Linked DNA regions of Homo sapiens. The protein of the gene in region 3 purifies or fractionates together with the protein of the main gene of each other region. This does not show direct contact. Each region holds a gene or a part of one and is shown on either strand. Other genes may lie near its edges. The genes, in order: COL14A1, PLS1 and STC2.

Region 1 (3,653 bases), on a different chromosome or scaffold from region 3:
CAAAAAGTGGGAGAAGGATATTAACAGTCACTTTCTCAAAAGAATACATTTATGCAGCCAACAAACATATGAAAAAAAGCTCATCATCGTTGGTCATTAGAAAAACTCAAATCAAAACCACAATGAGATATCATCTCATGCCAGTTAGAACGGCAATCATTAAAAAGTCAGGAAACAACAGATGCTAGAGAGGATGTGGAGAAATAGGAACACTTTTACACTGTTGGTGAGACTGTAAATTAGCTCAACCATTGTGGAAGGCAGTGTAGCGATTCCTCAAAGACCTAGAACTAGAAATACCATTTGACCCAGCAATCCCATTACTGGGTGTATACCCAAAGCATTATAAATCATTCTACTATAACAATACATCCACACATGTTTATTGCAGCACTACTCACAATAGCAAAGACTTGGAACCAGCCCAAATGCCCATCAATGATAGACTGGATAAAGAAAATGTGGCACATATACACCATGGAATACTATGCAGCCATAAAAAAGGATGAGTTCATGTCCTTTGCAGGGACATGGATGAAGCTGGAAACCATCATTCTCTGCAAACTAACACAGGAACAGGCAACCAAACACTACATGTTCTCACTCATAAGTGGGAGTTGAACAATGAGAACACATGGACACAGGGAGGGGAACATTACACACTGGGTCCTGTTGGGGTTGTGGGGCAAGGGGAGGGATAGCATTAGGAGAAATACTTAATGTAGATGACGGGTTGATGGGTGCAGCAAACTACCATGGTCCATGTATACCTATGTAAAAAACCTGCATGTTCTGCACATGTATCCCAGAACTTAAGTATATTAAAAAAAGATAAATAAATTAGAAAAAAAGAGTGTATCATTTAGAAAAAGGAAAGATAGATAAAACAACTCAAAGAAAACTCAATGTATAAAAATCTAAATCCCTGAGGGGATACATCCATGTTACGAATAATTAGAAATGACTATAAATCTACTCAATACGAGTTGATGTCAATGAAAAATATAACTATTGGTTAACGGATGGTATTTTATTAAGAATATTTTCACTATACCATATAGAAGACCTTTTCTGTGTCCTTTGCTTAAAAGTTTTTTTATCAGATTTCCAAGGGCAGAAGAAATTATTTTCTATATTAAACTTTTATACATGTCTATACATACATATATACAGACACAAGTGCATATGGCCTTTTATGACCCAACTTTGGTGCTCGAACAGGTGCAAGGCAGCAGAAGAGAAGCAATATTTGAAACAATGTTCAGAGGTTATTAACTTGGAGCAAGTTGTACATGGAGCAAGTTTTGGATTTATAAAGGTCACTAAGAAGCCAGTAGTGGAGTCAGATTAACAGAGAACATTAGTTTCTGGAGATGGCAGAGTCACTGAGAAAAGAGCAGTAAAGTTTGCATTGATCTCCGAAGACAGTCTTATTAGCTGTGTTAGTAACATCTGCAGAGTTTCTAGTCAGTTGAATTTATACAGACCGTTCCTATGACTTCTTCCTCAGGGTCCCCTTGAGCTGTCATGTAGGTCACCCTAAACTGCTGCACATCGCTGTCAGAAATGTCCCATTTTACCCGCAGGCTAGAAGTAGTTTCATCACCTACAACTAGGTTTCTGATTCCCGTCTGGAAAACTGGAATAAACACAACCAAGGATTAAAAAACTTTTAACATATCATATTCCAAAATGAGCCACAGAGAATACCTGTGGGGTGACAGCAAGCATCATTTAATGTATCCCTGTAATATAGTTGTATATGAGGCAAGAAGGGCTCAGCTATGGTGCTTAATGGGGAGGCATGATACCTACTAGCAGCAAATAAAAGTGGAATTAAGAGATGCTTACAAGATGAGACCATGGAGCCCTCAAAACTGTCAGTTCTGTATGTGCACTAGTAAAGAGAACTGGGAAGAAGCCCTGAGACTAGAAAAACAGCCCATGGAACCCAAAGGAAAGAGTGGTCATGAGAACCTCACACTAGTGCTCTGTGGACAAGTGGGCACAGTGGGCCAGACTTTGTCCACCTCTGTGTGCAATCCAGCATCCAACACACATCCCAATCACCTGCCCTCACCTCCATTTCTCTTTTAACACCTGTCATTCAAAGCACAAATCTGCGCTCAGGCTGCCTTTATCCATTCAGCCCACACAGACACGATCTTTTCTCTGGTACTTGTCCAAACTCCTTTACCTGTGTTTCCTGGCACATTCGTGCTCATCTCTCAAGGTGCCTGCTCCCTTATTTGTTGCATTTTTTTCTTTTCTCTTCTACCCTAACTTCATTTCCCTTTGTCCATCTTTTCTCATTCTCCTTTCTCTTCATTCATCTATTAATTCATTTAGAAAATATTCATTGAACTTTTTCTGTGTGTCAGACTGTTAGGGCTTTGGTTTTTATATAGTTATTAACTCAACAAAAATAGTAAAAGTGTCACAGAGGAGGAGGGGGTTGACATTTACCTGGCAACATTGCAGGGGGGCTACCAGGCAATGGGAATGGGAGGGAACTTCTCACATTTAGGGAAAGGAGTTCGGGATTGCAAGAGAAAAACGGGGGAAGCATAGGAAATATGGTTGAGGCCAGGAAGGGAAGCAGGACCCAACTAGGAAGGATCTTGGATGCTGTGAAAAAGACTTTAAAGCACAAAGAAGGCTTGATAAGGATTAAATGAAGAATGAACAAATCAACAAATGGGTAATGGAGAGCCATTGAAGTGTCTTAGAGAAGTAAATAAATGATATTATCAAACTTGTGTTTTACCAAGTTGACTCTGACAGCTAGTTGGGAGGTGTATTACAGTGAAGGGGAAAGCTAAGCTGAGAGAGGAAACAACTAATGTAGGAAAAACAATAGACCAGCCAAGTGTCAGTTACCCACAGAAATGCAAGGAAAACATGGTAAGAATAATTCTCAACAAGGCCAGGCATGGTGGCTCATGCCTGCAATTCCAGAACTTTGGGAGGCCAAGGATGAAGGAACATTTGAGCTCAGGAGTTAAAGACCAGCCTGGGTAATATGGAAAGACCTCATCTCTACTAAAATTCAAAACGATTAGCCAGGCACGATGACACATGTCTGTAGTCCCAGCTACGTGGGGGGCTGAGGCTGGAGGATCACATGAGCCCAGGAAGTCAAGGCTGTGGTGAGCCTTGATCGTGGTGCTGCACTCCAGCCTGGATGACAGAATGAAACCCTGTCTCTAAAAGAAAAAAAGAGAAAAGAAGGGGAATTCTCAACAGAGAGCAACAGAAGTGCAAATCAAAACCACAATGAGATACCATCTCACACCAGTTAGAATGGCAATCATTAAAAAGTCAGGAAACAACAGGTGCTGGAGAGGATGTGGAGAAATAGGAACACTTTTACACTGTTGGTGGGACTGTAAACTAGTTCAATCATTGTGGAAGACAGTGTGGCGATTCCTCAGGGATCTAGAACTAGCAATACCATTTGACCCAGCCATCCCATTACTGGGTATATACCCAAAGGACTATAAATCATGCTGCTATAAAGACACGTGCACATGTATGTTTATTGTGGCACTATTCACGATAGCAAAGACTTGGAACCAACCCAAATGTCCAACAATGATAGACTGGATTAAGAAAATGTGGCATATATACACCATGGAATACTATGCAGCCAT
Region 2 (3,653 bases), on a different chromosome or scaffold from region 3:
CTTTTGAATGTTGAGAGAATGAGGGCCAGAGGTGGCCTCAGCCTCAACACTTTGGGAGGCTGAGGCGGGCGAGTCACTTGAGGTCAGGAGTTGGCGACCAGCCTGGCCAACATGGTGAAACCCCGACTCTACTAAAAATACAAAAATTAGCCCGGTGAAGCCAGAAGCTGCGGCCCTGCCTTTCATATCCTGGGAACACAGAACCACTCAGGGGAAGGTAAAGCAGAACCAGGAAATGGAAAGAGAGCTCAGGCAGCAAGGGAGGGAAGCACGCTCTCAGCTGAGTTCCATTTTGAGACTCCCAGGAGAGTAAGTTCTCTATGTAATTAGGTTCATCAAGAGGAGGGAGAGGAGCACATTTTCTCACAGGTCAAAGCTGGGGCCTATGGGGTGGGGGGGGCCTTTAAATTATTTGTCTTTGACCTGGGGCCTTTCCTGAGGTATCCACACCCACCTCCAATTAGTCCACAGGGACTTCACAACTCCCCAATCTTAAAAATTGGGGGAGAATGTGTTCACACCTGGATTCTTCCTGGGGGTTTATGGCCATAGTTCAAAGGCCTAAGATTAGAGTCATGATCCATAGATATTCCAGGAGCTTCCAGCAGTGGATCCTGACACCCCAGGGAAAGAAATCCTTATACCTGGTCACTCCAGAGTTCTTAGGCTCCTACACAAGGTGAGCTTCCCAGTTTCCCATTGCCAACTCCACAGACACGCCCTGGATGACCACCAACTCACTCCCCAATCACAGCTCCACCCCAAAAGAGGGTGGGAGCAGATCAGAAGTGGCTTTAATGGTGTACCCAGAGAAAAAGCTGCTGTCCCTTTCTCTAGGAATGCTTCAAGAGAAAAGGAGATAAAGACTAAGTGGAATGAAAAAAAAAAAAAACCGGAACGATTTACCACTGTTGTTTTGGTTTTTTTAAATGTGGCTCAAAGAATGTTGGTGGTTCCACCAGCTGAAACCTGTGGCTATTCTAAGCATCTGTTAGAGTTACCTCAGAAAGAGCTTTGCATTTTTGTTAAGATATTTGATTAAGTTATTTGAGCGCTCAGTGTATAAAGTCAGATAGGCCTGGGGTCAAATCTCAGCTCAGCCACTTGTAAACTATATGACCTCAGATAAATGCTTTTATCTATCTCTCTAAGCCTCAATTTTCTCATCTAGAAAATGAGGGTAGGTCAGGTGCAGTGGTTCATGCCTGTAATCTCAGGGCTTCGGGAAGCTGAGGTGGGAGGATTGCTTGAGGCTAAAAGTTTGAGATCAGCCTAGACAACATAGCAAGACCTTATCACTATAAAAAAATTTTTTTTAATAAGCCGGGCACGTTGGTCCACACCTGGGAGGCTGAGGCGGGAGGACTGCTTGAGCCCAGGAGTTCAAGGTTACAGTGAGTTATGACTGTGCCATTCCACTCCAGATTGGGTGACAGACTGAAACCCTGTTTTTAAAAAATAAAAATTAAAAATAAATGAGTAATTGTTGCACCTATCTCACAGGATGGTTTATAAAGATGAAATGATATATTACTTGTATTTAGTATAGTGCCTGGTTCATGGAAGATATTCTGTAATACTAGTTACTAATATTACTATTATTATTTTAAGAAAGATATTTGTCATTTTACAAAGGGCCATGGTAAATTCTAGGATTTAATATTTGGACATTTAAGTGTATGAGACATTAACTTCAACATACTACCTGATTTTGCATCTGCCTAATCAATTTTCACTAACGTCATCATGAAAAACATATATATATAAAAAATATAGGCCGGGCGCGGTGGCTCATGCTTGTAATCCCAGCACTTTGGGAGGCCAAGGCGGGCGGATCACGAGGTCAGGAGATCGAGACCATCCTGGCTAACACAGTGAAACCCCGTCTCTACTAAAAATAAAAAAAAAATTAGCCGGGCGTGGTGGCGGGTGCCTGTAGTCCCAGCTACTCGGGAGGCTGAGGCAGGAGAATGGCGTGAACCCGGGAGGCGGAGCTTGCAGTGAGCCGAGATTGCGCCACTGCACTCCCGCCTGGGCCACAGAGCGAGACTCCGTCTCAAAAAAAAAAAAAAAAAAAAAAAAATATATATATATATATATATATATATATATATATATATATGAAACCAGGCCAACCCTTCCCTTCCCCACTGCTAGCCATTTCTCAAGCTCATTTGTTCTGTCTCTCCTCTCAACTGCTCTCTCTCTCCTTGACATTTTTAATGGACCATCGTTGCCTGTGGAAATATGAAGATGGTGGTCAACCACAGTGTGCAAGTCAATGGCAAGGATGTGGCATCCAACAGCTCCCTCATCGCTGTGTGCAGCTCAATGGAAAGGCTGTGTTTTGATTTGCAAAATGGCTATGATTTGCAAAATGCAACATCTGTTCCAAGTAAACAAATATTCCAAACCACCTCTTGAACTGGAAGTTTGGATTCAGCAGCACTGCTTTCTGTCTTGTTTTTCCAGGTAGAATCTGATCACAATTGTCTCTCTCTCAGCCTTACCTCACCCCCATGTTCTTGGGTCATAAACACCACCCTTTGGTGCCACCCTCCTGGCCTACCCTCACTGCACCTGGCCTACCCTCTCCAAAGCCATTGCTCACCACCTCCTGGTAGTGTACAATATATCTAGGAAATAGACTCTCAGTCCCAAGGACTTTGGGCCAACCCATTTGTGTCTGCCTCTGACAAGCTAAGCTACCATGACCTTTCCAGACTTCAACTCCCCAGTGTGAAGATTCCTAGGACCCCAGCCTCACTCCCTCCTCACTGTGTACACTCAACCTTGAACTGGCCAGCAGCCTTGTGTTTCACCTCTTCCGATGACACACACATTCTCTCATCGACCACCAAATTTCCCCCTTAGATTGGTTTCTGAGGGCTTTCAGTCCACAGAACATCTTGAACTGGAGTGTCTTGCTACCAACTCAAATTAATCTTGGGAGGCTGAGCATGGTGGCTCAGGCCTGTAATCCTAACACATTGGGAGGCTGAGGCAGGCCAAAGAATTCAAGACCAGCCTGGGAAAAATAGTGAGACCCCATCTCTAAACACAAAAAAATACAAAATTAGCCACGCATGGTGGCACGTGCCTGTGGCCACAGCTACTTGGGAGGCTGAGGTGGGAAGGATCACTTGAGCCCGGGGAGGTCAAGGCTGCAGTGAGCAGTGATCGTGCCACTGCACTCCAGCCTGGGTGACAGAGTGGGACCCTGTCTCAAAAAATAAATAAATAAATAAAAATAATCGTGGGGCCAACAACCTCAAAAAGTAATAGTTAATGAAAAGAGCTTGGGTCTAGTAATGAGGAAATTTGAACAGAGCTTCTGGCTATCCCACTAACTAGCTTAGTTAAGAATATCTGGCCGGGCGCGGTGGCTCACGCCTGTAATCCCAGCACTTTGGGAGGCCGAGGCGGGTGGATCATGAGGTCAGGAGATCGAGACCATCCTGGCTAACAAGGTGAAACCCCGTCTCTACTAAAAATACAAAAAATTAGCCGGGCGCGGTGGCGGGCGCCTGTAGTCCCAGCTACTCGGGAGGCTGAGGCAGGAGAATGGCGTGAACCTGGGAAGCGGAGCTTGCAGTGAGCCGAGATTGCGCCACTGCACTCCAGCCTGGGCGACAGAGCGAGACTCCATCTCA
Region 3 (3,653 bases):
GTTAGCCTAATTCGAGGAAAATGCAATATTGTTTTGCTTTTGGCAAGAGCTTCCTGCAGAGTTTCGCCATGAATTGTATGATTCTAACACTGTAGCAAGGGTGTTGCAAGATGCCTATGACCTTATAACCAAGTGGAAAGAGACAGGAGGTGCTTGCTGTTCTCTGTCATCTAAGTGGTGTTGGTGTGGTAGGGACATAACTGGAAGAAGGTTGTGGCACAAACTGAGGATCAAGAGTTCATAAAATTATACCGATTTGGCTCAATGAGTCACCGTGGAGAGACCAACAGTGCCATCAAACTGGTAATGACTTGTACTGAACTGGTTGGCTAGTGGCTTTCTTTCTGCCCTGTGTCTCTTAGGAAAGAGCCATTGTCAATATTTAAAAAAAAAATCTTCAGGGGCTCCTGGCCCTGCCTCATGTTAGGAACAATTGTGTACCAACATGCTTTACCATGCTGCAAAATTTAGGATCCTGTGGCTGAAATATTTTGTAAGAAATGATGCATCCTGAATTTATCATTGAATTTCAAGTCTTGAAATAAGTAAGTTCACATTTCCTTGTTTTGGCATAGAAGTGTTTAGCTGATTAAAGTTTTTGGCACTTGTTTTGCATTTCCTCTGAGAGGGCACTAATGTATGAGAGAAGGTAAACCGAACCTTCTAAGGGAAAGGAAAGTTAAGGAGGCAGGAAAAGCATCTATAGCTCTGTTTTCGGGATTTAAGAGTATAGGTTCTGGAGGCAGACTGCTCAGCAGACTGGAGCCAGGTCCCAAGTCTGGCTTTGCCTGTCACTAGCTGTGTGAGCTCTGCCTTAGTGAGTCTCAGTTTTCTCATCTGTCAAATGGAGGTGACGAGGGCTGTGGTGAGGATCAAGTGAAAAATTCACAAGGAGCCCTTAGCCCAGTGCCTGGCGCTTAGTAAATATTCAACAAATGTTATTAGCAATTTGCTGTCTGTAAGGACACCTCTACAGCTACTCAGAATATTCTGAGAGCTAGTGGGTTCTTGGCTAAGGGGAAGATGAAGAGTATTACTGAATCGACACATTTCATTCTTAGTAAAACGATTTCCCATTTCTGTTGCTTGTGATTTTGAGACTGATGAGGGAATTCTCTCTTTTCCTAAAAGCCAGCAGGAAAGGGGCCTTTTAGTAGAGTCAGTGTAGCTTTCTGAAGTAAATGGAAGCCTTCTCCATTTGACAGGCATTCAGCCTCTAGAAGCAACGCGGCTCTCCTCCCATACACATTGCCATCCTTGCTGGGTGGCCCCTTCACCCAGGCCCTCTGCGGGGCAGTACTCACTCGTGCAGCAGCAAGTCCTTGAAATGGATCATCTCCACTATCACCCGGGTGTTCTCCTGGGCAGCCGCGCACAGGTCGTGCTTGAGGTAGCATTCCCGCTGCAACTGGGACACCATTTCCCTGATGGCCGGGCACTTCCGGCTTATGCAGCCGAACCTGTGCCGCAGAGCGTGGGCCTTACATTTCAAGGCGTCTTTGATGAATGACTTGCCCTGAGAACACACAGGCCGGGGAAGGGAGAGAGGGGCAGAAAGCAGAAGACCTCGTTACATGCTTGGACATTTCAGCCCTTCTTGGGCTTACACAGGATATTTCTGACATCAGAACCCCAAGGCCCCACCAGAGACGGACGTCCTCCCAGGTGACAGGCAATGCGACATCCGGAGGCACGTCCAGAGTGACATGACACCCCCAGCACTGGGCAACAAGGGATGTTCATTCTGTAGACGAACACATCTCCCTCCTTCCTCCCTGGCTACTCTGTGAGTTTCCCTCCAACGGGGGCTTCCGTGGCTATGTGTCCCTCAGGTAGCCCTGTGTTGGTTGTGTGGTGGCAACTTTTCTGGAACACAAAGGGAATTTGGCCAGACACAAATCCATAAATCCCTCACGGTTCTCACAAGCAGTCTTCCCTAAGTGGAAGGTGCCTGCATGTCCAAATCTCACACGTTTCCTTTTTCCCTTGATTCCAGGGGCGACACCGAGATTGATTGCTGATTGTACCTCCCTTTCTGCCTCCGTGCCTCCCACGCCCCAAATCCATACCCTTGTCTCCTCCTACCCTACCAGGAAGAGCGCTCTTTTCCTTTTTGAAAATGACTCTACTCCTTTAAACTGTTCGGATTATTGCCTCTAAAAGGCTGGCCTGGCACCCTGCCTGGCAGCATCTGGAGTCTGAACTGCCGCACTGGCGGCCCCTCCCCCACGCTCCCTGCCTCCGAGTGGCGAAGGCAGCCAGGCATACATCTGGCCTGCAGTTCTCTTTCCTGGCAACCCCGTCTGATTGTGCTTATCCTAGAAAGGAGACAGCTGTTGGGGGTGTGGAGGCGAGCTCGGTGCTGCTCCCTTATCAACCTCGCGCAGCCCGGAGGCATTGTGGGATGCCTACCCGGGAATCCCCGCACCCCACATTACTATAGAAACTAGCTGTCGTCGGAGAGGTCACCCCTCTGTTTTTAGACAGGCCCGGAAGTCACTGAGTTGAGAAAGTAAATGGGTTTAGGTTGGAAGTGGGAAGCCAGCCAGCACATTTATTTTGGTTTTGTCTTTAGCAGCCATAGAAATGTCTACAGATAGCGTCTGATCTCTGAAAAACCATGTGGCCCGCATGGCCTCCCCGTGGCCCCCTCTCTTTTGACTCTCCAGCCAGAGCCAAACAGAATGGAGGGCAGGGTGTGCCCGTTTATTAAGCAGTTATGTGCTGAGCATCAACTTGAAAGGGATGTCTCTAACTTGAGAACGTATTCCTGTTGGTTGGGAAAAAAAAGAGGAAGATGAATTTATGCGAGGGCTGTGGCAATCTGTTCTTGGTATTCTTCCCTGACATCCTGTGGGATTGCCCTTAAATACACGTCTTTCCTCCGGATTTCCTATTACGTTTCCTAATTCCCGTTAATCCAGAGTGATGCTTTATTAGGGAGCCTCAAGGAGTTCAAAGTTCTACCTCTTTCCTTCCCTGGTTTCAGTTTCCCCTCTGGCCACACCGCACATCCTCTGCAGTTTAGGCTGCCAGCCCCGTCTTCGCCTCCCCTCCTTGTTCCCAGGCACTGCTTTGTCAGGCTCACTACTATATGTCAGTGGATGGGGACTGGTGACATCCATAAATCTCACCTAAGCTGATGGCCACCTCCAAATGTTGGCATTGCTCTCCAATGAAGCAGGAGAGACGTTTCTGAGATATAGTAACAGGGCGTTTCAACAGGGCATATAAGTGGCCAGGGAGAACACGAAGAAGGTGAGTCTGATGCCACATGCCATCTAAAAATGTATTTGCGTTGTTGGCACTGGAGCCATATGTTGCTTGTTGTGTTCCTGCCTTGCCCTGAGCAGCAACTCCGCGTTCCCCTTGGGACCCTGGGATAACCGAAGTGGGTCAGGCCCTGACTATATTTATCATATAGAGCAAAAGGAAAGTGTGGAACTGAAGGACTCAATCAGGGTTTCGACCGGTCAGCTTGGGAGAGAAAGATCTGCTACTCAGGAGGAATAGAAGTCTGCTCTTTTGGAGGTCCTGAGTTATTCGGGTTGGCTGCCCACACACCACATGACGGATTTCTACATACTTTGTGTCTCATTTTCCTAGTAGGTGAAATGACTTCTGAAATGTATAATTGGGGGTTCCTGCCCCTG

What was found.
Region 1: the proteins of STC2 (region 3) and COL14A1 purify together in Homo sapiens (affinity purification with mass spectrometry; one large-scale study listed by BioGRID and IntAct). This does not show direct contact.
Region 2: the proteins of STC2 (region 3) and PLS1 purify together in Homo sapiens (affinity purification with mass spectrometry; one large-scale study listed by BioGRID and IntAct). This does not show direct contact.

Annotation. Positions count from the first base shown.
Region 1 is NC_000008.11:120,229,453-120,233,105, reverse strand, and holds part of COL14A1 (collagen alpha-1(XIV) chain isoform 1 precursor), read right to left. Parts: intron 1,640-3,653; coding exon 1,488-1,639; intron 1-1,487. UniProt on the Homo sapiens protein: Plays an adhesive role by integrating collagen bundles. It is probably associated with the surface of interstitial collagen fibrils via COL1.
Region 2 is NC_000003.12:142,599,347-142,602,999, reverse strand, and holds part of PLS1 (plastin-1), read right to left. Parts: intron 2,473-3,653; exon of another isoform or gene 2,254-2,472; intron 1-2,253. UniProt on the Homo sapiens protein: Actin-bundling protein. In the inner ear, it is required for stereocilia formation. Mediates liquid packing of actin filaments that is necessary for stereocilia to grow to their proper dimensions.
Region 3 is NC_000005.10:173,321,915-173,325,567, forward strand, and holds part of STC2 (stanniocalcin-2 precursor), read right to left. Parts: intron 1,517-3,653; coding exon 1,305-1,516; intron 1-1,304. UniProt on the Homo sapiens protein: Has an anti-hypocalcemic action on calcium and phosphate homeostasis.